2 linked regions of the Homo sapiens genome follow. The protein of the gene in region 1 interacts with the protein of each later gene in a biochemical or structural test. Each region holds a gene or a part of one and is shown on either strand. Other genes may lie near its edges.

Region 1 (11,865 bases):
GCCATGGGTGCTTTAAAAAATAACCTTAGTTTGAATTGAAAGCAGAGGCAGTGGTATTGGTAGCAGCTGTCTGTCTGCTTGGTGACAGAGGGGTACTCCCTGATGTGGGTACTTGGTCATAGAGCCACAGGACTACTACCCAGACCACTGTCCCCTCCAGCCCTCTCTGACGGGTCTGTGGGAACATAGGGGAGAATGCAGCCAAATATATCCTTTTTTTTTTTTTTTTTGAGGTTTGAGATGGAGTCTCTGTTGCCCAGGCTGGAGTGCAGTAGCACAATCTCGGCTCACTGCAACCTCCACCTCCCAGGTTCAAGCAATTCTCCTACCTCAGCGTCCCGAGTAGCTGGGATTACAGGTGTGCTCCATCACACCCAGCTAATTTTTGTATTTTTAGTAGAGACGGGTTTCGCCATGTTGGCCAGGCTGGTCTCGAACTCCTGACCTCAGGTAATCCACCTGCCTCCGCCTCCCACAGTGCTGGGATTACAGGCATGAGCCACCGCCCCCGGCTGGTTCCTCATATTCTTAAAGGACTAGAACGTATATTTTTAGTCATTGCTGAGGATGACTAGTTCTTTAAATGTCTCCTTTTATCACTTTATATATGCTCTCCAATTTCTTTGACCACAGCCTCCTTACCATTCCCCATCTTAGTCTACCGCATTTGCTAACTCTCATCAAAACCTTCAGGAACCGGGTGTTTCTCCTTCACCTGGTTAAATCCCTCTACTACCCTCTTAAGTTTTGTCTTCCCTTCGCAGCCTGGACTCCCAGTCTCCTTACTGTTAGTCTTGCTTGACTTGACTCAATTACTCCCTTGATATTTACTGTGCATCTAGTCAGTTCTTTATCCCCACATCATTCCCCCCTCAGCTATTTCCAGTATTTAAAGCAATATTTTAGAGCAAAATTATTCACTCATTGGAGCCCTAGGAGTTGCTCAGCAAACAACAGATGCTGGCATTCATGGATTTGATGGTCTCAGTTTGTAAAATAAATAAATAAATGAAAGGGGAAGGGAGTGGGGCAGGCAGGCACAGGATACTCATGGGAGATAAAGAAGGGATCAACAAAAGGAAACAGCGGGGCTGAGGGGGTTGCTTAATCAGACCCTGCAGGCAACAGAGAGTATGAAAAATAGTCTGGGAACACCTACACCTGTCGCCCAGGCTGGAGTGCAGTGGCATGATCTTGGCTCACTGCAACCTCTGCCCCCCCCAGGTTAAAGCTATTCTCCAGCTTCAGCCACCCGAGTAGCTGGGATTACAGGTGTGCACCACCATGCCCAGCTAATTTTTGATTCTTTAGTAGAGATGGGGTTTCACCACGTTGCCCAGGCTGGTCTCAAACTTTGGAGCTCAAAGTGATCCGCCTGCCTCGGCTTCCCAAAGTGTAGGGATTACAGGCATGAGCTGCTGTGCCCAGCCTGTTTCTGCATTAATTTAAATCTTTTTTTTCCATAGCTTTTCTTAAATCCCATGTCCTCTGTCAAGCCTTTTTTGAGTATCCGTCCTCGGGTCACTACCTGCTACCTGTAGACTGTTCATTTGGGTGGCTTTGCTGGGGTTGCCTGTGAAGCCATACAGAGGCATGAGCCTCCTAGTGCCAGCCTAGCACATGCCATGATTTTGGTTAGCAACTTTAGCAACTTACCTATTGCTTAGCAGCTTACCTATTGCTGTTCACAAACCACCATGCCAAGCACAGGGCCCTACATGTAGTGGGAATTTGATTTTCCTTACGTCAGCACACATGATCATCGTGATTAGGATGGAGGGAAAAGTGAGTATTAGACATGACGGGTTTTGCTCAACTGGAGTTATTTAAGAGATTGTGATTCAGCTAACAGTAGGAGAACTAGACAGAAAGCTGGCTTTTAGGAAGACTGGTCAGCTTTCATTAGAGATTTTGGTGAGTTGGGCACAGGAGAAAGTTTTTTTTTGTTTTTGTTTTTGTTTTGAGACAGCCTCTTGCTCTGACACCCAGGCTGGAGTGCAGTGGCGCGATCTTGGCTTACTGCAAGCTCTGCCTCCCGGGTTCACGCCATTCTGCCTCAGCCTCCCAAGTAGCTGGGACTACAGGCGCCCGCCACCACGCCCTGCTAATTTTTTGTATTTTTAGTAGAGCTGGGGTTTCACCGTGTTAGCCAGGATGGTCTCGATCTCCTGACCTCGTGATCCGCCCGCCTTGGCCTCCCAAAGTGCTGGGATTACAGGCTTGAGCCACCGCACCTGGCCAGGAGCACGTTTTAGAAGGAGATGTGTCAGTTGCCTATTGAGATTTTTTTTTTTTTTTAGTCCAGTGGGAAATCCTGGTAAGTAGTTGGAAATGTAGGGAAAAAGTCTATGGATAATGTGTATTTTGTAATGTGAATATTTTCTTTCTTTTTTGAATAGTGTCCCGAGCAAGAGAAGCAGTCCTGGATGCCCACTTTCTTGTTTTGGCTTCAGATTTGGGCAAAGAGAAAGCAAAGCAGCTGCGCTCAGACCTGAGCTCCTTTGACATGTTAAGATATGTTGAAACTCTAGTAAGTTCAAAGCTACAGACTCTGAATAAAAAATGTTCTGTTATATATTATAATTATTTACTGTGCTCATATCCATATGCAGATGATTTCACTTCATTCTTCTTTTTTGGTCTCAGATTCCTCTGTAGAGATCTTACCAATTTAAACAGACGAAAGTAGAACCATGTGGTGGAATCTTGGGTGGGGGCTTGGAGTAAAAATCTCGTAGCATTCTGTCTTAAGATGCTGGGTGCTATGGTCATTTGCCAATGGCCATTTTTCCTCTGTTCACTGGTGTTCTAGATCATTCTCAGTGACCTCAGACCTTTGTCCTGGGCTGGACAAAAGCCCACTCTGCGATGGCAGAGCTCAGCTGGAATTGAGTTAGGCCTGGCGAGAGGGCATGTTTTGGTCTGTCTTTGAGAATATTTCAAAACCATGTGAATATGATTGGGTTTTGCTTTTTTTTTTTTTTTTTTTTTTCCTTTGAGACAGAGTCTCGCTCTGTCGCCCAGGCTGGAGTGCAGTGGCGTGATCTCGGCTCACTGCAAGCTCTGCCTCCTGGGTTCACGCCATTCTCCTGTCTCAGCCTCCCAAGTAGCTGGGACTACAGGCGCCTGCCACCACGCCCGGCTAATTTTTTGTATTTTTAGTAGAGACGGGGTTTCATCATGTTAGCCAGGATGGTCTGGATCTCCTGATCTCGTGATCTGCCCGCCTTGGCTTCCCAAAGTGCTGGGATTACAGCCGTGAGCCACCTAGCCCAGCCAGGTTTTGCTTTTTTGGTTTTATGTTTTATTCACCTTTCTTTGTCTCTTGACAAGTTTGAATAGTGGTTACCTGCAATTCTAAAACTGTTCCTTGATGAATTTACCAAAAAAGAAAAAGCACACAGAGACTGACCTTGTATCTCACTTTGTTGTCTTTTTAAAAAATTCTATTCTGGCTGGGGGCAGTGGCTCACGCCTGTAATCCCAGCACTTTGGGAGGCTGAGGCGGGTGGATCACCTGAGGTCAGAAGTTTCAGACCAGCCTGGCCACCATGGTGAAAGCCCGTCTCTACTAAAAATAGAAAAATTAGCTGGGTGTGGTGGCAGGCGCCTGTAATCCCAGCTACTCGGGAGGCTAAGGCAGGATAATCCCTTGAACCCAGGAGGCAGAAGTTGCAGTGAGCCGAGATCGCGCCACTGCACTCCAGCCTGGGCTACAGAGTGAGACTGCACCTCAAAATCAATCAATCAATCAGTCAATCTGTCAATCTGAGCCAACCTCTGTCCTAGCACAGATAGCTGCACCTCAGTATGAATATTGCATTTCTAACTGGATGTTTATGTTAAATGGTTATTAAAATAATTTAGTACTATGAGATCTGATCAGATAATTTTTTTGTAAAGGCATGAGGCACCAGATTATTTCCAGTTTGTTTTTCAAACCTTTTCCTTTTTTTTTTTTTTTTTTAACTTTTTTTTATTGTGAAACATAATGCACTTAGGAAAGTGCACTGTAATATAGAGGTCAATAAAGTAACCATGTATTGGGTATTTCTTTAAAAATTACTTTATCAGGTTAAGCTCTATTTTTTTATTTTTTGAGACAGAGTCTTGCTCTTGTTGCCCAGGCTGGAGTGTTGCCCATGCTGGAGTGTTGCCCAGGCTGGAGTGCAGTGGCACGATCTCAGCTCACCGCAACCTCCACCTCCTGGGTTCAAGCGATTCTCCTGCCTCAGCCTCCCAAGAAGCTGGCATTACAGGTGCCTGTCCCCACGCCTGGCTAATTTTTAGTAGAGGTGGGGTTTCGCCATGTTGGCCAGGCTGGCCTCGAACTCCTGACTTCGTGATCCACCCGCCTGGACTTCCCAAAGTGCTGGGATTACAGGCATGAGCCACCGTGCCCGGCCAAGCTCTGTACTTTAAATAACATATCAAAATAAATTCTGGAAGTCTTAAAGCATTAAATATAAAACCTTAAATTAATAGTTGTCCAGTCTCTGGGTGGAGAAGACTTTCGTATGTATAGCATCAAATATAGACACTATAAGGAAAGATTGGTGGATTTCTCTGTCAGTTAAACAGACCAAAACTGCCACGTCTGCCTACAAGGGTGCAGTGGTAGTTCGGGCGGCAAGGGAATGGAGAAGAGCTGGCCATAGCGCTCTGACCAGGCTCTTGTAGCCTTTCTTTTCTTTAAAGTCTGATTGCCTTTAATAGGGTTAAGCTCCCTGAGGGTTTTGTGATTATTGTTTATATATGATATTGCCATCGTAATTGGATAACTTCTAGGCATTTTACAGTATAATGTAATAAAAATGTACTTTCATAAAAGTAAATTCAATATAACACATTTTCTGTAAGACAGTTTGAGATGAGAGAATTATTTGACTTCCGCCAACTCTTCCCAGGAAGGCAATTTTAAGATGAGCCATTCTCTCAGTGATGCCGGGCCACTGCTCTCTGGATATACTGAGATACAAGCTGAATAGAGATTTGTAGGAGGTTGGCAAAAAATTAAAATCTGAAAACCAGCTGAACTTCCTTGTGCTGTCTTGAAGCTTTTGATTTGGGATTTAATTTTATATTTATATGTTAGTGCAGCTTTACTAATACACGAACTATTGGTGATACAAAAAATCCCAGGGGGCTGAGTTCTGGCATACCTAAATACTTCTGGCTGCCAGTGGGCTACAGCAGGGTTTCTCAGCACTGGCACTATGGATTGGCATTTTGAGCTGGGCATGTCTTTGTTTTGGGGGCTGTTACTGTGCATTATATGATATTCAACAGCCTCCATGGCCTCTACCCAGTATATGCCAGCAGCATATCAGTTGTGACACCCACAAATGTCTCCAGGTATTGCCAGAAGACCCCTGTGGGCACGTATACCCAGGTTGAGAACCACTGGTCTAAATCATTTCACTTTCTCACCCAAAGGTTTTAAGTACATTGAGGAATGTTTTCTGCCAAAAAGAAGGTAGCTTTGGAAGCAGGACTTTAACTGTAAAGTTATCTTCACAGTAAGAAATTTAGCCAGCATGTTAAGACACTGAAAGCTGGCTTTGCGTCTGGCCTCTTAAAGGTTGAGTGATGCGGATTATTGGATGTGGAAAATGATTGCATGTGGCTTAACTGGGTTTTTTGTTTTCCTTCATTTTTGTAGCTCACACATATGGGTGTAAATCCGCTAGAAGCTGAAGAACTCATCCGTGATGAAGATAGTCCTGATTTTGAATTCATAGTCTATGACTCCTGGAAGATAACAGGCAGAACAGCAGAAAACACCTTTAATAAAACCCATACATTCCACTTTCTGTAAGATTATTTTAAAAATCCAACAGACCAGTTATTTGTGAACCTTAAATTGCTTTTTCTTGTAGGGACAAAGATTATTTGGTATTGTAGAGGTGACAGTCATGATGCCGTTGTTTGGAGACTTTTGAAACTTTGATATGAAAGTTCATAAACACTAGGCCGGGTGTGGTGGCTCATGCCTGTAATCCCGGCACTTTGGCAGGTGGATGCAGGTAGATCATCTGAGCTCAGGAATTCAAGATCAGCCTGGGCAACATGGCGAGAACCCATCTCTACCAAAAATACAAAAAATTAGCCCGCTGTAGTGGCCCATGCCTGTGGTCCTGGCTACTTGGGAGGCTGAGGTGGGAGGATCACTTGAGCCTGGGAGGCAGAGATTGCAGTGAGCTGAGATTGCGCCATTGCACTCCGGCCTGGCTGACAGTGAGACCCTGTCTCAAAAAAGAAAAAAAAGTCCATAAACTCTAGATGTGGATGGAACCTTAAAGGATCTCTCATTCTGCTTTAGCAGAAAAGGCCAGAACCTCTTTACCAGTGCTCTCCTGGCTCCTTTGCTTCTAGCTCATGAGACTCTGGGTTTATCATCTTTAAAATCCTTATCATATAGGAGGATGATACCTCCTACTGAGGGTATCTTATGAGTCTCCCAACGTCTAAAGTGACATTTATTATAATACCCTGTTAGATGACCACTGACTTGTATTTGAAGATTACTTGTCACTGCCACATAAACTGTCCAGTTCATTTTTTAGATAGAACTCTGATTTAAAAAAAAGATTTCTTTATATTTGAATGAAGTTGGCTTCTGTCTTAACTTCCTGGCATGGTCCTATGGAGAAATTAAGAACAGCTCTTACTGGCTCTTCTCTAAGAGGACCTTCAAGTATACTGGTTTTGTTGCCCAGTAAATACTTTAGGGTAGCCATCTGAGTTGTTCAGTCCTTCTTTAAGTGGTATAGCTCCTGGGCTTTTGTCTTTTCTAATTTGTCTTTCTAAAAACCATTGAGATTGATAGTAGCTCGGGTAGAAGGCCTTGGAGATGCCAATGTAGTAGTGTGGTGTGGGGTCTGGCATCTATTTTTAATAAGACTTCAGGTAACTCAGGTGCCCAGAGCCATTTGTGTATGTTCTATTTAATAGGATGTAGTCCAAACTTCTTCATCTTAGGATAAAGTCTAAATCTTTGTTTTTTGCTATTGTACTAAACTCATAAATCCTAGGTTATAAAGATAAAGCCTTAAACTTTATCTCATCATCCAGCCCAATTTCCAGCCACAATGAAGTACTTAAAACTCTGTGTCTTTGTACTTGCTGTTCTCTTGGCCTCCAATTCCTTTTCATCTTTTCCATTCGGTAAAGTTTGTTTATCCCACAGGCCCCATCTTGGAAGCCTCCAGCAACTTCTCCAGACAGAGGTGTTAGCAGTGTAGGATCAGATTTCTCAACCACGTCACTCCCATGTCTGGGTAGATATCTCTGCCCAAGTGTTCTCATAGCACTTGAGCAGTACTCTCTAAGCGCCCAGGATCTACCATGTTGCTTTTTTAAAATTTGATTAATTTATTTTTTTATACTGCTCCTTGTGGAGCAGGAGTGTTCCCAGAGTAGCCCACCATGTTATATTGAAATGGATCTGTGTGCATAATGCAGCTGTCCATCTACATCGTATATTTTTGTCTCCTCAAGGGTAGGGACCACATGAGCCTTATTCTTGGGGCTTTGATCTCTACATGATGCAGACTTACATCTATTACTGTAACCCAAGTCTGCATGAGGGCAGAATCCAGAAGGAAAAGGAATCCCATGGCTGTGACTTGCCCTGTTATCCTAAGACAGATGTGTTCTGTAGTCCTGGGCTGGGAGCCTCTGCCTTGGCCTCCCCAGATCAAAGTCTTCTGACCCCACTGGAGCTTCCCCACATACATGTTCATCCTTCCCCTGCTCTTAGAAGTTGGCTTTGCAAAACAATAGGTTGGGTGGTGGGAAGATGTCACAGGCATATTCACTGGCCTACTTTACAGGGCAGTATGTAGGTGTCTGAGGAGGTATCTGTGGTTGAGTAAAGCTCCTAGGAGTTCTTTTAGAAATACAAAGAAGGCAGAAAGGCTGTCACAAACCTTATCAAGAGTCTTACTCTGATGTCAGCTTGTATATCACTGATGTCTGGTCTGAATTTGACTATACCATGCAAACTACTTTTAGTTAGTAAAGTTAGTTTGTTTAACAAACAACAGGCAAAAAAAATAAATGAAAGCATACTTTTCATTAGGTTGGGTTCAATATACGGAGAGTGCCCTGTGCCAAAGCCACGAGTTGATCGTCCAAGAAAAGTTCCTGTGATACAAGAGGAGAGGGCAATGCCTGCCCAGGTTTGTTTTAAAATGTTGCTTTTAAAAAAACACATTAAAGTTAAAATAGCTGTTAAAATAATGTGCATGCAATTTGGCCATTTTTTCTAAGTGTGCGGGTCTGGAGCCAGGTTTTGTCACTTAAATAATCATTTTATTTAAGCCTTTAAGCATTTTATTGGATTGGCTGCTTGTCTTTGTTTTAACTCATTTCTCTAGTTTTGATCAGTTCTCCGAAGCCAGGGTCAACCTCAGCACTGTCAACATTTACGGCTGGATAATGTTGGTTTGGGGAGCTGTCCTGCGCATTGTAGGATGCTTAGCGGCATCCCCAGCCTCTACCTGTTATATGCTAATAGCCCCCCCGACCCCTGAGTTGTGACAACCAAAAATGTCTACATGTGACAACAAATGTTCCCTGGGGAGGTGGGGGGAAAGTCACACCCACTCGAGAACCACTGTTTCTAAACCGCCCTTTTGTATTTTGCTATTTTATGTTCAACCTGAAAATGGTTAATCTGGTAATGTTACTATTCTATTAAGAAATTGATATGAAAATGTTACTGAGGCCAGGCACAGTGGCTTACGCCTGTAATCCCAGCACTTTGGGAGGCCGAGGCGGGCAGATCACAAGGTCAGGAGTTCGAGACCAGCCCGGCCAATACGGGGAAACCCCGTCTCTACTAAAAATACAGAAATTAGCTAGGTATGGTGGCAGGTGCCTGTAGTCCGGGCTATTCGGGAGGCTGACGCAGGAGAATTAGGAATCTAGGAGGCAGAGGTTGCACTGAGCCGAGATCATGCCACTGTACTCCAGCCTGGGCGACAGAGCGAGAGTCCGTCTCAAAAAAAACAAAGGTTGCCCGAGTGTGGTGGCTTACGCCTGTAATCCCAGCACTTTGGGAGGCCAAGGCGGGCAGATCCACCTGAGGTCAGGAGTTAGAAACCAGCCTGGCCAACATGGTGAAACCCTGTCTCTACTAAAAAGTACAAAAAATTAGCCAGATGTGGTGGTGGGTGCCTCTAATCCCAGCTACTCTGGAGGCTGAGGTAGGAGAATTGCTTGAACCTGGGAAGCGGAGGTTGCAGTGAGCCGAGATGGCACCACTGCACTCCAGCCTGGGCCACAGAGCAAGACTCCATCTCAAAAAAAAAAAAAAAAAGTTACTGAAACCAGAAAATCTGTTTTTTTTTAAACCATAATTTTTTTTGAGACAGAGTCTTGCCCTATCACCCGGGCTGGAGTGCAGTGGCGCGATCTCGGCTCACTGCAACCTCCGCCTGCTGGGTTCAAGCCATTCTCCTGCCTCAGCCTCCCAAGTAGCTGGGATTACAGGCAGGCACCACCATGCCCGGCTAATTTTGGTGTTTTTTAATAGAGACGGTTTCACCATAATGGCCAGGCTGGTCTCGAACTCCTGACCTTGTGATCCACCTGCCTCAGCCTCCTACAGCGCAGGGATTACAGGCGCGATGTCGGCTCACTGCAAGCTCCGCCTCCCGGGTTCATGCCATTCTCCTGCCTCAGCCTCCTGAGTAGCTGGGAGTACAGGCGCCTGTCACCACACCTGGCTAAGTTTTTGTATTTTTAGTAGAGATGGGGTTTCACCGTGTTAGCCAGGATGGTCAGCAAGACCCCATATCTAAAAAAATTTTTTTTAATTAGCCAGGTGTCTTAGACAAGGTAGAATGAATTAAAAAAAAAAAAATTAGCCAGGTGTAGTGGTGCACGCTTCTAGTGCCAGCTACTCAAGAAGCTGAGGTGGTAGGATCCCTTGAGCACAGGAGTCTGAGGTTACAGTGAGCCGAGATCATGCAACTGCACTCTAGCCTGGGTGGCAAAGCAAGACCCTGTCTCAAAAAAAAAAAAGAGTTCGGGTGTGCAAGAGAGAAGAAAAGGAGTTTGGGTGTGCAAGAGAGAAGAAAACGTTAATAGGCCAGTAAGTAGGTCTGTCAGCTTGATAATGACTTTTTTCAGTTAAGAAGAATGGAAGAATCTCATCAAGAAGCAACAGAGAAAGAAGTAGAAAGAATCTTGGGATTGTTGCAGACATATTTTCGAGAAGATCGTAAGTGTAACACCATTCAAAGTGGAGCAATTTGTATTTATCTGTTCACTGAGGTTACTTGTATTTAAAAGGCAATTTCAGCTGTATGTAATATTTGAATAAATACATATGCATTTTATGAGGATTCTTCTCCCCTTTAGAAATTTCATGTGAAAACTTTGAAGTTAACGTTTTCATTTTTATCTTTAAAAGATGGGGATTTTTTTTGTTACAAAATGAAATATGCCATTCAAGTGAGAAATGTCAAAAGTAGCTGTTCCACCTCCCCTCATTATAAAATGTAATGTGTATATTTTCAGATTATTTTATCAGTTTTATACACACCTACCTAAATAGTTTGTTTTGGCCGGGCGTGGTGGCTCACACCTGTAATCCCAGCACTTTGGGAGGCTGAGGTTGGGAGTTCGATACCCGCCTGACCAACATGGAGAAACCTCATCTCTACTAAAAATACAAAATTAACCGGGTGTGGTAGTGCATTCCTGTAATCCCAGCTACTTGGGAGGCTGAGGCAGGAGAATCGCTTGAACCCGGGAGACAGAGGTTGCGGTGAGCCAAGATCACGCCATTGCACTCTAGCCTGGGCAACAAGAGCGAAACTACATCTGAAAAAAAAAAGTTTGTTTTTTTCTTTTTTTCCAAGCTAATCATAATATGCACATTCTTCTGCTACGTGACTTTTCCATGTGGACATTCTTCCACATCATTTCATATAGATCTCCCTTGTTTTGTTCACTGATTCCCATTATATGGCTGTACTGTAAATATATTTAACAGATCCTCCATTAATGGATGATTAAGTTCCTTTTTTTTTTTTTTGAGACAGAGTCTCGCTCTGTCGCCCAGGCTGGAGTGCAGTGGCGCGATCTTGGCTCACTGCAACCTCTCCCTCCTGGGTTCACGCCATTCTCCTGCCTCAGCCTCCCAAGTAGCTGGGACTACAGGCACCCGCCACCACGCCTGGCTAATTCTTTTGTACTTTTAGTAGAACCTGGGTTTCACCGTGTTAGCCAGGATGGTCTTGATCTCCTGACCTTGTGATCCACCCACCTCGGCCTCCCAAAGTGCTGGGATTACAGGCATGAGCCACCGCGCCCGGCCAAGTTCCTATTTTTTTTTTTTTTTTTTAGGAGACAGTCTCACTCTTTCGCCCAGACTGGAATGCAGTGGCACCATCTCAACTCACTGCAACCTCCACCTCCTGGATTCAAGCAATTCTCCTGCCTCAGCCTCCTGAGTAGCTGGGATTACAGGCGCACGCGCCACCACATCTGGCTAATTTTTTTTCTGTATTTTTAGTAGAGACATTGTTTCGCCATGTTGGCCAAGCTAGTCTTGAACCCCTGACCTCAGGTGATCTGCCAGCATCGGCCTCCCAAAGTGCTGGGATTACAGGTGTGAGTGCCATGCCCAGCTGGATGATTAAGTTCTTTATAGCATTTTACTCTTGTATAAATTGCTGAAGTAAAAAATCTTAGTATGTAATTTTGTGCAGTTACACTTGTATTTCTGTAGCACAGCTTCTTAGAGGTGGTTTCCAGGTCAGTGGGCATACATGTTTTTAGTAGAGATGCCAAATTGGCCTCCAGAAGGGTTGGATTGATTTGCACTCCTGCAGCAGGAATGAGTACACA
Region 2 (12,290 bases), on another chromosome or scaffold:
CACTTAAAAATGGGATAAGGTGTGATTCCCTCCTTCTTAAAAATGTTTCTAGAGCTACTAAAAAACTTGCATTTACAAAATAGTTGATAAAAATGTTCCTCTGGATTGTACAAGAAGGGAGACAGGGACCACTGATAAGACATTGTATATGGTGCTAATCAGTCTTGGCTCCTGCTTCATCAGAGGCTGGACTCTCCTCAGTTTTCCTTTCCCTGTTTTCTGCAGGTAAATCTTCTTTAGTTTGTTGGTTAGCCACTTTGGCCTGTCTTCCCTTTGCTCCCCTTTTCCGTTTTGTTTGCACTTTTTTGTCTGAAGATTTGTCCTTTGCAAAGCCTTTTTCGGCTTTGCTTCCACTTTTGCAGGAGGTTTAGCTGACAATCGCGCAGATCTCCTCTTGGGCTCTTCCTTGGCGGCCCCTTCAGCGGAGCAGACCTTCCTCTTGGGAATCCTGGCGGCGGGGAGGGCGCGTGCCGGGTGCCTGTGGGCCGCGGCGCGCGGAGAGCCTTCGCGAAGCTAGGCTGGCTGGCTGCTACCACTCCTCCGGCCACCCAAGCTCAGAAAAGACTATAGTTTTAGTAAAGCATGCACGTAGGATTTCTTTTATGACTGTGTCTAAAATTACATAAATATTTGTGTGTAATTATAAAGATATTACCTTAAAAATATTTTTAAAAGATGAGTAAAAATATACCAGAAAAAAATCTTATCAAAAGAAAACTGGAGGCCGGCCTGGTTGCTCACTCCTGTAATTCCAGCACTTTGGGAGGCCCAGGCAGGCAGATCACTTGAGGTCAGGAGTTCAAGACCAGCCTGGCCAACATGGCAAAACCGTGTCTCTACTAAAAATACAAAAATTAGCCTGGCATGGTGGCATGAGCCTGTATTCCCAGCTACTTGAGAGGCTGAGGCAGGAGAATCGCCTGAACCCAGGAGGCGGAGGTTGCAGTGAGTCGAGATCATGCTGCTGCACTCCTGCCTGGGCGACAGAGCGAGACTCCATCTCAAAACAAACAAACAAACAAACAAACAAACAAACAAACTGGAAAGTAGAATTGCTGACAGGATTGACCTTTATACCAAAAGTCTTATTAGAGATACGTCATTACGTCATTTATTAGTGATCAAATAATTCTCTGAGAAGATAGAACAATCTTGAACCTACAATGCCCTCTATGTGCTTTTAAAACATATATAAATACTATGGTAATATACATACCCTCTTACAACTCACTTTTTGCATTCAATATTGATTTCTAGATTTATCCCTTCTGATACAACTAGCATTAGATTCTGCATCTTAGCTGTGTTACAGTAGGTCTTCCACCATCACAACTATTCATTTCCCTCTTGATAAACGTTTAGGTTCGTTCTAGTTTTTTGCTATTAAAAACAATACTGTGATGTAAGGAATATAACAGCACATATTTCACTTCAATCATGTGCAAGTATATCTGTAAGCAAATTCCTAGAAGTAGAATTTCTGGGCCAAAAAGTATGTGCATTAGTAATTTGATAGCTATTGCCAACTTGCTGACTACAGAGGCTCTAACTACCAAGTAACCTCACCCTACCACCGGCAATGTTGAAGGGTGCCTGCCTGTGGCTCCACACCTTCAACAACAGTGTTTATCAAACTGTCTCTCATTGCTCAGTCTGATGGGTGAAATCACATCCCATTTTATTTTTATCACTGAGCTTGAACGTCTTCTCAAATGTTGAAATGCCATTTGTATTTCCTTTCTAATAAAATGTATATTGGTATCCTTTGCTCATGTTAAAATTGGTTTGTTGGTCTTTTATTGATTTATAGGAGCTCTTCATGTATTTGGGAAATTAGTCCTTTATGCAATTAGCAGCAAATATTTAATTGAAATGGGGTCTTGCTATGTTGCCTAAGCTGGTCTTGAACTCCTGGCTTCAAGTTGTCAAGGCGAGCCACTGTGCCTGGCTCTGCATTTGTCTTTTACTTTACTTAGAATTGTTTATTTTTTGCTGGCCAGAATATTTTTTTTGATGTAGTTGAAACTTTTCTCTTTCTCTTTTTTTTTCTCTTCTATAGTTCATTGAACTTACAAAGGTCTTCTCCATTCTAGGATTATGAAAAAACATTCTCCCATGGTTTATTTTAAGTGCTTTTAAAATTTCATATTTACATTTAAAGAAAATTCTGACTATGAGAAGATATTTGCAACGGTACAAATACAGCTGACATCTGGTATTCAGAATATACAAAGAACTCCTAGAAATCAATAACCATAAAAACAACCCCAGTAGAAACATGGACAAAAGATATGAACAAGCATTTCAGAGAAGAGATCTATATGGTCAAAAACTGTAAAAGGATGCTTAACTTCTCTAGTAATTCAGGGAAAAGCAAAGCCAGTGTTCCATACTCATCAGATTGGCAACAATTTTAATTGGCAACAATTTTAAAGCCTATATCAAGAGTGCTGAGGATCTGGTGAAATACTCACCAAAAGCAGAGATGTGAATAAACTTCAGGTGAAAATGTGAATTGTTACAACCATTTTGGAAAACAGATTGGGAATATTTATTCAGGTTGAAATGCTCCAACCTCCTCCTGCCCCCATGATGCCTCATGATGTCCTCCTCCTGCCCCCATGCATGCTCTTGGGTAATCTCCTCCCATTGAGTGTGGGTTAGGCTTAGTAACTCACCTTTAATAAATAGAATGTGGCAAACATGTTATGATGTCACTTCTAGGAACTGCCTTGCAAGAAATGTTAAAAGAGGTTCTTCAGAGAGAAGAAAAATAATACTGGTTAGAAATATGAATCTACGTAAAGAAAGGAAGAACATTAAAACAGAAATAAGTGACAGCATAAATAAAATAAAATATTTTGTTTTTCTTGTTACTAACTGATCTAATAACAGCTTGTTCAAAAATAATAGTAACAATATGTTGGATGATTATAGTATATATACTAATGAAATGAATGACAGAAATGCTTATTACATTTCTGTAATAAGAGATTGAAGGAAGGAATTGGAAATATTATGTTATAAGGTGCCTGCCCTATTCATGAGGAGTTATAGTGTTATTTAAAAGTGAACTTGGACTAGTTGTAAATGTATATTGCAAGCTTTAGAGTAATCACTAAAAAAGTAAAAATAAAAAGTAAAATTAATATGCTAAGAGAGGAGAGAAAATTGAACATATAAAATGCTTAATTAAAATCAGAGAAACTGGGTGCAGTGGTTCGTGCCTGTAATCCCAGCACTTTGGGAGGTGAGGTGGGAGGATCGCTTGATCCCAGGAGTTCCAGACCAGCCTGGGAAATATAGGGAGGCCTCATCTCTACAAAAAAGTTAAAAAGTTAGCTGAGCATGGTGGTGTGTGCCTGTAGTCCCAGCTACTCAGGAGGCTGAGGTGGGAGGATTACTTGAGCCTGGGAGACAAGGCTGCAGTGAGCTGACATCGCACCACTGCAATCCAGTCTGAGTGACAGAGTGAGACCCTATCTCAAAAAAAAAAAAAAAAAAGGGCTGAACATCGTGGCTCACACCTGTAATCCCAGCACTTTGGGAGGCCAAGGTGGGTGGATCACCTGAGGTCAGGAGTTCAACACCAGCCTGGGCAACATGGTGAAACCCTGTCTCTACTAAAAAAATACAAAAATTACCCAGGTGTGGTGGGCGCCTGTAATCCCAGCTACTCAGGAGGCTGGAGAACCACTTGAACCTGGGAGGTGGAGTTTGCAGTGAGCTGAGATCGCACCACTGCACTCCAGCCTGGGTGACAGAGCAAGATTCCATCTCAAAAAAAAAAAAAAAAAAAAAACAGCAAGGGCATCAAATAGGGAATAGTTACAAGTATGGTAAATATTAATCCAACTATATCAATAATCACTTTAAATGTGAATGATCTAAATGCACCAATTAAAAGAGACTGTCAGAATGGATTTTAAAAACAAGATTTAACTATATGTTATCTACATGAAACCAACTTTCTAAAGACAAACTAAAAGTAAAGGGATTCAGAAATATATACCATACTAACAGTAATCAAAAGAAAGCCAGAGTAGCTATGTTAATTGCAGACACAGCAGATTTCAGAACAAAGAAAATTATTAGGGATAAATAGGGGTGTTATGTAATGAAAGAGGAGTCAGTTCTCCAAGAAGACACAACAATCTTTAATGTGTGTGTGCCTAACAACAGAGCATCAAAATACATGAGTCAAAAACTGATAGGACTTCAAGAAAAAATAGATGAATCCACAATTATAGTTGGAGACTTCAACACCACTCAATCAGTAATTGACAGATCCAGCAGGCAGAAAATCAGTAAAGATATAGTTGAACTGAATAGCACCATCAATCAACTGGATCTAATTGACATTTATAGACAACTTCATCCAACAAAAGCAGAATACACATTCTTTTCAAGCTCACATTGAACATTCACCAAGATTGACTACATCCTGGGCCATGAAACATGCCTCAACAAATTTAAAAGAATAGACATTATACAAAGTATGCTTTCAGACCACAATGAAATTGAATTAGGAATCAATAGAAGAATGGTAGCTGGAAAATCACATAATATTTGGGGATTAAACAATATACTTCTAAAGAAAACATGGGTTAGAGAAGAAGTGTCAAGATAAATTTTAAAATATTTTGAGATAAATTACCAAAATTTGTGGGATGCAGCAAAAGTGGTGCTTAGAGGGAAATTTGTAGCATTGAATGCATACATTAGAAAATAAGAAATACCTTAAATAAATCATCTAAGCTTCCATCTTAGGAAACTAGAAAATAAAACAGCAAATTCAGCCCAAAGTAAGCAGAAAAAAATGCAATAAAAATTAAAACAGGAATCAATGAAATTGAAAACAGAACAATAGTAGAGAAAAAGCAATACAATCAAAAGCTGGTTCTTTGAAAAGGTCAACAAGATTGAGAAGCTTGTAGCCAGACTGACCCAGAAAAAAAGAGAGTAAACAAAATTACTCATATCAGAAATTAGAGAGGAGCCATTGCTACTGACCTCATGGACATTAAAAGGATAATAAAAAGTATTATGAACAACTCTATGGCCACAAATTTGATTACTTAGATAAAATGAACAAATTCCATGGCTTGTTTTTAATGAATAGGATATGGCAAAAGTGATGAGATCTCACTTCTGAGATTAAGTTATAAAAAGACTGCATCTTTCCTCTTGGGATCTCTCTCTCTCTCTCTCTCTCTCTTTCTCTCTCTCCAGCTACCATGCTGTGAGGAGACTTAGGAAGCCTACGGATAGGTCCACACGACAAGGAATCAAAGTCTGACAACAGCCACATGAGTTAGCTTAGAAATGGGTCTTCTTTGGCCTGTCAACAACCATGTAAAAGAGCTTGGAAGTGGACCTCTTACCCTACTTGAGCCTTCAAATGAGACTGCAACCCTAGATGAGAGCTTGGGTGCAACCTCGTAAGAAAGTTTGAGTCAGAGGCACCTAACTAAGCCATGCCTGGATTCCAGACCCATAGAAACTGATATGATAAATGTTTGTTGTTTTTAGCTGCTATGTTTTAGGGAAATTTGTTACACAGCAATAGATACCTACTACATACTCTTTGACCAAGAAATTCTACTTCAATGTTTCCATACTAGAGCAATTTATTTCAATCCTTTTCACATCAGAACATATATTTAAAATGCTATCAGCTCACTGGAATAAACAGACAGTGTGCTCTTGGCCAGAGGCAACAGTCTCTAGGGGCAGCTGCTGAAGCCAAAGCTACCTTCCTGGAGAGCTAAGGGGATCAATATATCAGAACACTTATAACTCAGTTGGGAAGCTCTGCCCTGAAGAAACTCTTCTATGTAGGCACAAGGAGCCATGCACTAGGATGTTCATTGAATCCTCACTTATAATTGCACAAAACAGAAACAGTAGGAAAAGAGATAAATTGGATAACTTATGCAAAAGAAGTCCATACAATAATATGTTATAGTAATGTATTGGATAATTGATACAGTAATATTCAGCAGTTAAAATGCATGACTCAGATCTACAGGTATCAAAATTGCTGAGTTTCAAAAAACAACAGAGTGAAAATCTAAGTTGCAAAAGTATATATTTATAATGATACCATCTGTATAATTTAAATACATGAAACAAAATTGTGTATTGGTCACAGATATATATATGTAAATATATATTATATATCTGTATATATATGTATACATACACTTATATGCACATATACATATATACACATATATACATACATATATATACACACACATATATATATATATATATATATATATACACATACACACACACACAAACATGAACAAGACGACAGCACATCAACTTCCAAATAAGGCTTATTTTCAAGAGAGAGGTCAAGTGAATAGGATGAAGTGAGGGCTTCATCTGTACTATTTTGTTTCAAAAACAGAAGGATCTGAGGATCTGGAGAAAATAAAATTTGCTCAATCCATGTGACAGGTGCATTAAAATGTGTATTTTATACTCTACTTTTCTGTATAGTTGACATATTTAAAAATATTTTTATAAAGAAAATGTATCCTCTCTTGAGTCCAAAAATACATATACAAGCTGGGCACAGTGGCTCACGCTTGTAACTCCAGCACTTTGGGATACCGATGCAGGTGGATTGCTTGAGATCAGGAATTCGAGACCAGCCTGGTCAACATGGTGAAACCCCATTTCCACTAAAAAATACAAAAACTAGCTGGGTGTGGTGGTGCACACCTGCAGTCCCAGCAACTCAGGAGGCTGAGGCAGGAGATTGCTTGAACTCGGGAGGTGGAGGTTGCAGTGAGCCAAGATTTTACCACTGTACTCCAGCCTGGATGACAGAGCAAGACTCTGTCTCAAAAAAACAAAAATACATATACATTCGGTATATTGTACTGTCCCATTTCCTCATATCGTTATTTATTTTGCAGTCTATTTGATTTATCTATACCATAAGAAATGAGGTGAAGTTTCCCACTATAATTGCAGACTTCCTGATCTCTCTTTATATTTCTAACAGTATTTGCTTTATATATTTTGAAACTACATTGTTTGGCACATAAATTTTTGTGACTATCATATGTTTTTTTTTAAAATGCACTGTTCTGCAACATGCTTTTTTCACTTAATATATTTATATTAGACCAGTACATATATACATATATACTTGCCTTCTTTCTTTCTTTCTTTTTTTTTTTTTTTTTTTTGAGACAGGGTCTGACTATTGCCCAGGCTGGATCACAGTGGCGCAATCTTGGCTCACTGCAGCCTCAACCTCCTGGGCTCAAGTGATTCTCCCACCTCAGCCTCCCAAGTAGCTGGGACTACAGGCACGTACCATTGCGCCAGGGAAATTTTTACGTTTTTTTTGTAGAGATGGGGTTTCACCATATTGTCCAGGCTGGTCTCAACTCCTGGGCTCAAGCAATCCTCCTGCCTTGGTCTCCCAAAGTGCTGCGATTACAGGTGTCAACCACCATGTCTGTACATGAGCCACCATGCAACATGTTTAAATAAATTTAAACAATTTATTTGTTGAGGAGAATTAAAGTTGTTTGCATTATCTTGCTACACTCCTATTCACATATCTTTCTCCATTTGTGTGTCTCAATAGAACACACAATAGAGCAATTGACTAGAAGTAGAATTGCTAGATGAAAATGTATCTCCATTAAAAAATTTGATAGTTTCAGATTTCTCACCAATGAAGTTCTATTATTGTTATTATTATCATCATCATTTTGAGATGGCATCTTGCTTGGTTGTCCAGGCTGGAGTGCAGTGGCGTGATCTTCACTCACTTCAGCCTCAACCTCCTGGGCTCACACAATCCTCCTGCTTCAGCCTCCTAAGTAGTTGGGACTACAGGCACACACCACCAGCTTGTCATATCTTTCTCAGTGAATAAAGCAACCTGTTTTGTTCTCTTTAGTTCTTTTTACTTTGAGTTCTCGATGTTTAGGATATTGATATTGTTACGAGTTTGTTTCCTCCTTCCTTTCCTTCCTTTTTTTTTTTTTTGCTTCTTTCCTTCCCTCATTCCCTCTCTCCCTTTTTTCTGCTAGTATTTTACTCTCATATATTTTTTATTCCTATTTCTGCTTTAGGTGAAACTCACATAAATAGAATATAACTTAGCTTTTAAAAACAAAATGCTCAAAATAAGAGTTTGGTTTTTATTAGGAGATGTTAACCCATAATGCATGCTGATATATTTGGATTCCTGCATTTTTGTTTTCTTTTTGCATCCTTTTTTTTGTACCCCCCCAGCAACATTTCTTGACCTTTGTTAAGAATGAGTTTTTCTCTTTGTTCCACATATTATTACTTTAATGGTTTGAAAGTTATACATTTTATTTCTATTATGTTGTTACCCCTAAGATTTTTGTTCTATTATGCATTTTGTTTCCAGTAAGAACAAAACTTTGCTACTGTTGTGAACATGGGAAATGTTTACATTGGCTGTAAATACTAGAGTTCCATTATAAAGCGCAATTTAAAGACTTCAGAATTCAGTAAAATGGTATAAATCCAAAAGGCGTAACTACAATATTTTTAACTGCAATGCAATAACAGAATATGAACCTGTGTTGTGTCCTATGATCTCTTGGACAGAGAAGCTTGGTTTTGTGATTAGCAGCAACAAATTCAACATAAACAGCTTCAATTTGCTTTAACCATCAGGTTAAAAAAAATTTAAGCTTACTGCAACCCTAAATATGGTTTCACAGTTTTAATACTTTCGGTACAACCATAACACGTAACATAGGATGTGATGTAGTAACGTAATTACTCTCACATTGGACTTAATCAGAAAGAATTTGCAGATTTTATTTTATTTATTAAAAAACCAGAAGGCAATATAGCTAAATGTTTAACATTAGTTAAAGCTGGGTGTTTGTGACATTTTTCGCTGTCCTTTTCTGTATCCTTGACGATTTCATCATTTAAGATGAAATAATGCTTTCGGGCCCACCCTGATTTGTGGAGAGCAGCTGCCGCCCCCGCCACATCAAGGAGGCGGGCTCCAGCTGACTTCACAATCACTTCCGCCGCCGCAGTCGCCGCCCGCCCCGCTGCTGTCTGGCGGGGGAGGAGCTCGGGACCGGGAGCAGCGGCTCTGGCGGTCGTGGCGGTCGGAGATCCGAGAGCTCTGCTTCTCTGAAAAGCGTGTGGCTTTCTGGACTTGGTGAGTGAAAGGCTGATTGTTTCCTCGATTCATCCGGGCGCTGGCGGTGGCGCGAGTGGCCGGGCGCGGGGCGAGTGGCCGGGCACGGGGGCGAGGATTTTGGGGGGTTCCTGGGAACTGCTTTTCAGGTTCGCCCCTCGGGAAGGGGTGGGGCGGACGCGGGACCTGACTGCAGAGTGAGGCCCATGTCCTCCATCGGCCTGTTCTGGGGCCACATCTTCCGCTGCCGGAACCCCTTTGGTGTGGCGCGGTCCCCACTCGAGTGGCTTTCATCGCTATTGGGAGGGCAGTGGTGGTCGCGGCCCTCTCCCACTTCTCCCTGCCTCTCCTCCCCTCTCCTTCCTTCTTCCCTCCTCGGCCCCTTTGCGGAGCACTCCGTGGCCTTTCTTCCCATATTTTGCTGTTGTTTTGCCAAATGGTAAATGGTTAAGATTTTTAGGTAAAAATACTGTTCCCAGGGAAAAAATTGGAAGGAAAAAATAATTATTCTCAGGGAAAACTAGACCCACGCACGCCCTTTTCTTTCATTTTCCCTCTCCCCTGCCACATCGGTTGGGGTCTCCCGTTTGAGCTGATGGCCTTTTCCCACCTCTTTTTATGACATTGCGTCCCCCCTACCCCCCACCCCCCGTGTGTCGCGAGCACGCGCCCCCGCACAGAAGCCTTCCATTGCAGCCCCCTCCTTGCCCCTCCATCCTCAAGGTTCCAGTGCTTCCCCTCCCCCGCGCATGCGCAGGCACACGCAGCACACACCCTCTCACACACCCTCACACCCTCACACCCTCCCATGCCTTCCCCCTCCTCTATCCGCCTACCACATACACACCTCTAGCACCGGCCCCCTCCCTGCTCGGCCTCTGCGTGCTCTCGCGAACACATGCCTATTCACACACCCCCTCCGGCTGCCCTCCTTCTTCCTTCCTGTCATATACACACATAAGGACATCCTTCTATCGCTGGCCAGTGACATACATATGTAGCCACATGTGCTCATTCATACCCCCTTCTCAAATGCTCTCCTCTATTGCTCTGTCTGCCACGTGTGTCAGACACAGCTCTCTTTTGCTGGTCCCTGAGGTGCACACACTCGCACTCACATAAATCCTTCTACGGGGACACAACCTGCCTCCCTGCTTGCCATATCCACACAGGCAGGCATCATTCTTTGATTGCCTGCCTCTGTTCCATCCACCTCAAGCACATCCCTCTCCAGTGCTGCGCACCCCCCACCCCCGCTTCCATTTGTGCCTGCTGCATTTGCTCACACTGACATTTCTCCATTGTTGCCTCCCATTTTGACTAACATACACACACACAAACTCTCAGACACTCCTCTCCATTGCCAACCATACACTCCTCTGCCTGTGACATACGCATAAACATGGGCATCCTTCTGTAGTTTCAGCTGCCTCACATACAGCTACACACACAAACACCTTCCCTTTCCTCATACATACACGCACCCCTCTCCTCCAAAGCCACCCCACCCATGCCTGTCATTTTCATACCCACATCCAGAATGGGTCTCATTCTAACACTCATACCCTTTCCCCCTACAAACGTAAACATCCCTCTGTTGCAGGATTACTGGTCCCCTTCCACCTGTCCCTCTCCTCTTGATAGACAGACACATAGGCACTCGTGCACACACGGCGATCTGTATTTTCCACTCTATTCCAATTTGCATTTCTCCTGTATGTCTGCAGCACTCAGAAAAATGCAGACACCCCATAAAAAAAACTATAGCAGTCTTTCCTTTCCCCACGTTGCACAATTCCACAGTACTTCACCCACCTTCCAAGCGTCCAGTCACCCCCCAACCTTCCGTCAGATTCTCCTCTAAGTCTGGCTTTCCTGCAAACCCAGTCTTGTAATCATTTTGCCAACATTAAAAATGTGTTCCAGGTCTACACCTGACAGTCACTGGAATGCTACTCCAGGCCTTAGAAGAAAGTGAAACTAATTTTAAAGGCCCCTTATTCTTTCTGTTACCTGCCTGCTGAAGTGAAAATAAATCTCCCTGCTCCTTTATTCTAAACTGATTTTACTTTCCCATCTCAAAAACGTGTGCAGGGAGCAGGAGCCCTCCTACCCGAGCCCCAGCTGTATTGGAAACCCTCCTAAGTCAGAGTGATGGGTCAGGAATCTAGCAAGCCTGTATGGCCCAATCCAACAGGAGGGTATCAGTCCAATACAGGTAGGAGGTATGGAAGAAGGCATGCTTATGTCAGTTTCAGGCCACCCACGAGCCAGCGGGAAAGGATTGCCAGCCAGAGAAAGACGAACTCCGAAGTCCCAATGCACAGATCAGCCCCCAGTCAAACCACCAAGAGGAGCCGATCGCCATTTTCCACTACTCGTCGTAGTTGGGACGACAGCGAGAGTTCGGGAACCAACCTGAATATTGATAATGAGGACTATTCCAGGTATCCGCCAAGAGAGTACAGAGCTTCGGGTAGCAGAAGAGGAATGGCCTATGGACATATTGACTCTTATGGGGCAGATGATAGTGAGGAGGAGGGGGCTGGGCCTGTTGAGCGACCGCCAGTGAGAGGGAAAACTGGCAAGTTTAAAGATGATAAGCTGTATGACCCAGAGAAAGGGGCAAGGTCTTTGGCTGGGCCACCTCCACATTTCTCTAGTTTTAGCCGTGATGTGAGAGAGGAGCGAGACAAGTTAGACCCAGTCCCTGCAGCAAGATGCTCAGCTAGCAGAGCTGACTTCCTGCCACAAAGTAGTGTGGCCTCACAGTCGTCTTCTGAAGGCAAGCTGGCTACAAAAGGTGACAGCTCGGAGAGGGAGAGAAGGGAGCAAAATTTACCTGCACGTCCCAGCAGGGCTCCTGTGAGTATTTGTGGTGGTGGGGAAAACACCTCAAAGAGTGCAGAGGAACCTGTGGTCAGGCCCAAAATCAGAAACCTGGCAAGTCCAAACTGCGTGAAACCAAAAATTTTTTTTGATACTGATGATGATGACGATATGCCACACAGTACTTCCAGGTGGAGGGATACCGCCAATGACAATGAGGGCCACTCGGATGGCCTGGCAAGAAGAGGGAGAGGCGAGAGTTCAAGTGGCTATCCCGAGCCAAAGTACC

What was found.
Region 2: the proteins of NSMCE4A (region 1) and PJA1 form a complex in vitro, tested with the Homo sapiens proteins (one study listed by BioGRID).

What each region holds. Positions count from the first base shown.
Region 1 is NC_000010.11:121,961,604-121,973,468, reverse strand, and holds part of NSMCE4A (non-structural maintenance of chromosomes element 4 homolog A), read left to right. Parts: intron 1-2,399; coding exon 2,400-2,530; intron 2,531-5,662; coding exon 5,663-5,814; intron 5,815-8,083; coding exon 8,084-8,183; intron 8,184-10,140; coding exon 10,141-10,231; intron 10,232-11,361; coding exon of another isoform or gene 11,362-11,468; exon of another isoform or gene 11,469-11,716; intron 11,717-11,865. UniProt on the Homo sapiens protein: Component of the SMC5-SMC6 complex, a complex involved in DNA double-strand breaks by homologous recombination. The complex may promote sister chromatid homologous recombination by recruiting the SMC1-SMC3 cohesin complex to double-strand breaks.
Region 2 is NC_000023.11:69,162,275-69,174,564, reverse strand, and holds the start of PJA1 (E3 ubiquitin-protein ligase Praja-1), read left to right. Parts: upstream 1-9,111; 5' UTR 9,112-9,193; intron 9,194-11,098; exon of another isoform or gene 11,099-11,326; coding exon of another isoform or gene 11,327-11,491; coding exon 11,492-12,290. UniProt on the Homo sapiens protein: Has E2-dependent E3 ubiquitin-protein ligase activity. Ubiquitinates MAGED1 antigen leading to its subsequent degradation by proteasome. May be involved in protein sorting.